2 separate regions of the Homo sapiens genome follow, and region 2 is linked to region 1. The links come from fine-mapping of genetic effects on gene expression. Tissue or cell type: whole blood. Region 1 holds a variant in brackets; the other region holds the start of a gene. All regions are shown on one strand. Distances are from middle to middle.

Region 1 (2,500 bases):
TACCCTGTCACCAGACTGGAGTGCAGTGGCACAATTACAGCTCACTGCAGCCTCCAAGTCCTGGGCTCAAGTGATCCTCTTGCCTCAGCCTCCTGAGTAGCCGAGACTACAGGTGCACACCACCACACCCGGCTAATTAAAAAAAATTTTTTTAGAGACAGGGTCCTGCTATGTTGCCTAAGCTGGTCTTGAACTTGGCCTCAAGTGATCCTCCTGCCTTGGCTTCCCAAAGTGCTGGGATTACAGGCATGAGCCACTGTGCCCGGCATCTCTTTTGCTTCTGACAGTGCTTCAGATGGTGGCTGTTCCACCAGCCTGGGTCCCTAAGTGATTTCAATGGTCAGAGTCCCCTGCTCATCCACAAAGGGCATGTAGCAGAAGTGAGAAGCAGTAAGTAGCAGAAGCAGAAGTGTGTGTTAAGCCACTGAGATATTGGGGTTTTTACTGCAGCATAATCTAGACTATTCTGATACATACCTTTTAGTGTGTCTAGAATAATTAAATTAAAAAATTAAATGAGGAAAATATCCATAGCTTTCACGCAAGTTCTAAGATAAGACAAGAGAAGGGGGCTTAAGAGAGTAGAAGGCTGCATTTCCATTGCTGTTTCCTAAAGACAAAAAAAAAGACATTTCCTAGCTCCCTTTTACCCCTTGGGTGGCAGCAGCAATGAGTTCAGGAAGACTTTGGGCTGGGGTGTCCCTGGTATTTCATTACACCTCTCTTGGAAACTCATTTAGCACCACTGTGCTTTCTCCTCAGCTTCAGGAAAAAAGCCCAGCAATCCCCAGGCATTAGACACCTGCAGGGCAAAACTTGGTTTGGCACATTGTTTGGGCTTCTAAGTCCCCCACCTCCCCAAAACTGCAGCAACATCAGCCAGAACAGATATGTAAGATCAGAGCAGACAGGATGTGAGGGAGTTCTTGCCTTAGGTGCCTGGCAAGAATGTGAACCTCAGCTCCTGGGAGCATGGGGCTGGATGGCTCTGTCACACAGTCTACAGCCCACTGACACTTCAAATGCCAGCTTCCTGCCTTCTTGCCTCCGGAGGAAGCATTCCTGGATTACCTTGCCTGGAAGGGAGGGGAGGAGGAGCTGCAGGTAATACCTGGATTTCTATGGTGCTTTTCTTCCTAAAGGTTCAAAAGACATCCCTTCTCTGATCTCCTGTGGCCTTCCCCAGAAATAGGGCAAGGAGAGGAAGACTCTCATTTCCCAGTCCAGGTAAAGAAATGAGGGTCCAGAGAGGTTAAGCAAATGGCCTGAGGTCATATAGCAGGACAAGAGTATGATTCTGGTGGGCAAGGGTCTATGTCTCCACACCCCATCTCTCCCCATCCACTACCCCAGACCTACCCTGCTGG[C/G]CAGGCTGGCTGGCCCCTGTATGTGGGCAGCAACCTTAGTACTCTCAGTAGCCTTTGCAGAGGGGTGAGCTGGGCCTTGAGTGTCCACTCAGCTTGTCCTGGGCCTGAGCAGAGAAGAGGAAGAGGAGGAACTGGGAGAGGCTAAGGTCAGCCCCCCCCACCCCCCCACAATCTCCCAACAGAGCAGTGATGACAGGTTGGCCTTGAGCCCCGTGGTCCCGCCACTGGGAGGTCAGGCCAGGAGGCTGCCAGAACACCGGGGCTGAAGAGGCTCCAGATAATGCAACTGGGGCAGGCTCTGTGGGTGGAAATGACATTTCTTGACTTTAAATAGCTCCATCTCCAGAGCCCCGGAGCCTCGGCAGGGCTATTAATTCCTGGACTCCCAGGGCTGCCTAGCCCTGTCATTCTGTTTGCACAAGTTGTGTAAGATCTCAGGCATTTTTCCTGCCACCCGTCTCCCCCACCTCCCTTCAGGTTTCCTGTGCGATTTCAACAAGGGGTTAGTTTATTTCCAGTTTCAGGCCTGGGATTCGAACTGACCACATACATATTTTGTCCTTCTTACAAGTGACACGGCTCAAGTCAACAGCAAACTCTTAAGGGTTTTCTTTGTAACCTGGTGTCTCTGTAATGAAAGGTAATGTGTATGTGAATGGACGGCAAAAAGAGAGGCCATCTCTATGCATGCATGTGTGTGTGTGTATCAAGTTAATTAATCAATTGATTAATCAAACCCCCAGATTATTTTTGAGTGCTTACTATGTGTCAGGCACTGGGCTAGCGCTGGGTACAAAGGGTAAACAAGAGTCCTAACTGATTAAAAAAAAAGAAAACTGTTACCACCCCCAGGGAAGGCCCCTGGTGGTGTCTCCTGGCCCAGCTGGGCATCCCTGACAATAGTTCCCAACATCTCTGCATCGTGCCCACACTTGCCAAGCCCCCGGTTATGTGCCATGCTGAGAATGATGCAGAGAAAAAGACAGGTAGGTGCAGGAGGTTCTAAATGCAGAAAATCAACAGGTCGTGGTGGCTGACTGGCTGGAGAAATAAGAATCAACGATTAGTCAATGACAAGTCCAGGGTGTTCAGCCTGAGGACACTTAGACTGTTGGACCTTTGAGGGCAGACAT
Region 2 (2,500 bases), 74 kb before region 1:
TCATTTCTAACAACAGCTTATGCTAAGGGTTCCCATGAGCCAGGCATGGTGCCCGGTGCTTTACATATGTTATGTCAGGCACTACTATTTTCTCCCTTCGCAGAGGTGGAGACTGAAGTTAAGACAGGCTAAATAATATACCAAAAGTCCCATAGCTGAAGGGCCAGAATCAGTCTGGAACCTAGGTTTGTTATGAACTCAATGCCCCCAAATGAAGCACTCTGCTATACTGCTTTGCAAACATGTTAACTGATGGGGCCTGATCAAGGGAAATGGGTATGCACTATGAAGAGTGAAGAGGGTGATCCGGGAATGAGGGAGTAAGGTTCATGATGCAAGCAGATCCTGGGATGAGGTTACAAGAGGAAATTTCCAGGGTGGGGTACAAAAATGATTGCAAAAAATTATTATCTTGACTGAGAACTGCATAATTTCACAATTTCACAGACGGAAGGAAACTCAAAGATCATCTAACCCAACCTCATCACAGTCATGATGAGAAACTGAGGTCCAGACTGAGGAGGGGACTTCTCACAGGTCCCTAAAGCACAGCAGTGACAGAGCTGGGACCACACACTGGATTGACTGGATTCTGGATTGATCCAGAATTCTCTGATGCCTCCAATTATTACTACTTCATATTAATCTCTATATCCTCCTTAGCACCAGAAAGGTGCTGGACGCTTGTAAGTCATGTGCTGATTGACACTGAAGGGCTGGGATCGCAGAGAGAGATGCCAGTGGGGGTGATTTTAGGATAAAGGCAGACGTGGAACGAGGGTCATACGGCTACAGGATAAAGATACTGAGGGTTGTGTACAAGGTGAGTGCGTGGAAAACTATTGGAGTAGGGCTTAGGAGTCGCCAGCAGAGTTTTGAGGGGAGTCACCGAGTTTGTGGGGAACACAAGGTAGAATCGGGGGGGTTACTGGGCCAGGAGGGTTACCCAGGTTTGGGGGTCACTAAGGAGGAGTGTGGGGATCTCAGGGTCATGTGAGTCACCGGATTAAAACTGAGGGAGTCACTGGTTGGTGGGTCTCTGAGAAGTGCTGGGGAAATTCCTGGGTTAGCAGCCAATGAATAATAACCAACGGTTACCTGGTGAGGTCTTGGGGTCAGTGGGTGGGGTGTGGGGTCACAAGGGTGGAGGCGGGCGCCGTCACGGGGTGAGGTTTGGGAGTCACGGGGGAGGAGCCGCAAGGCGGAAAAGAGGGGCAGGGACCCTGGGTGGGGGAGGGGGCCCGGCCGCGGTCCAGCGGCCAGGCCGCCCTGCTAGGGCCGGAGGGAGGTGGGCACGCCGGGCTCGGGACCTTCCCGGGGTCCTGCGCCCGCCCGGCCTCCCGCCCTGGGCATGGTTGGCCCACTCCTCCCGCAGCCACCAACCTGACAGCCCCCGAGGGCGACTCCGCCGACAGACCGCCATGCACCGGGCCCCGCCACCAGCGCCGGCCCCACAACCCGCCTGCGCCATAGCCCGCCCGCCCGCGCGCAGCTTGCCTCGCGCGATATCCAGGTTCCAGGGCCGCCGCACTTTCCTTTCCTCTTGGCGCGCCTCTACCGGGCCCCGGAACCCGTATAGAAAATACCGGGCACGGTCCACCCCGCCCCCCGCTTCGCCGCGGCAGCCATCCAACTTATCCTGGTTCCGGGGCTCCTGGAGCCCAGGCGGCCGGGATCTGAACCGAGCTCTTCGGAGCCCCGCCCCCACCAAGGCCGGGGTGACGCATGGCCAGCGAGGCTGAGCGCCCAGGGAAGGCGTGCTGACGTCACGACGCCCGGGTCAGGGCCTGGGCGCGGCTCGGAGCCGGGTCGTCGCTATAGCAATCGGGAACCGCTACCTGTCCATTCCAAGGATTCGGTCCAGCAGAAGCGTGAGGAGGTGGCGGAGGCCCCGAGGGCTTTGCGTCATCACTTCTGCGGCCTGCGGGCGAGAAGGTGCGCTTCGGGAGTAGCGCGGGAGGACAGGAGGCGCAGGTTGTGAGGGACGCAGGCCCTGGGGCTTCGGTCTCTGTCCTCCGAGCTCAGAGCCTCCAGGCTTCTTCCCGGCCGCGCGCTCAGCACTCACTGTCTTACGGTCCCGAAGCGCTTTAAGGTGCGCAGTCCGCAGGCCTTGCCTACTGATCTTCCAGCCACCCCTTGAAGGAAGCAGTTGCAGGTATTAAGAGCTCCTTATTGAAAAGGACGATGTAGAGGGGCGGTGAGGGACTCGCCTCCGCAGGGAGGGCGCCCTGGCGGTCTTCTCAGGTTCTCTCTCATTCCCGCGTCAGCTCCACCGTCAGGCTCGAAACCGACTACTCCCTTTTGTAGGCTTGCTTTGGGTTGAACATAAAAACCAAGCCCCTTTACTATTTCCCTGCTGGGAGGGGCTGCGATTGGGAAATTTTCAGAAACCTGAGGGAAAATTAAAAGGGAGCGAGCTTTCGGTAAAAAATCAAATTAAAAAGGAGGGGCGTTAGAGAAGGAACTGGTAAAGATTGCCTTTTAGGAGAGGAACTGGGTG

What was found. PIP is the estimated chance that this variant, and not a neighbour inherited with it, causes the effect.
Region 2: it holds the start of ZNF76, and the variant in region 1 is fine-mapped to the expression of ZNF76 in whole blood (INTERVAL, PIP above 0.99).

The regions. Positions count from the first base shown.
Region 1 is chr6:35,184,656-35,187,155 of GRCh38, reverse strand. No RefSeq gene overlaps it. Among named protein-coding and RNA genes, the nearest start is that of SCUBE3, 28 kb to the left of the region's middle. RefSeq lists silencers at 1,530-1,824, 2,219-2,500. The variant C/G (reference allele first, on the strand shown) is at 1,368.
Region 2 is chr6:35,258,725-35,261,224 of GRCh38, reverse strand. ZNF76 (zinc finger protein 76) reads right to left here and starts at 1,490. Exons shown (of 14, transcript NM_003427.5): 1 at 1,384-1,490. SCUBE3-AS1 (SCUBE3 antisense RNA 1) reads left to right here and starts at 1,770. Exons shown (of 4, transcript XR_001744102.2): 1 at 1,770-1,935. RefSeq lists silencers at 1,058-1,377, 1,388-1,507.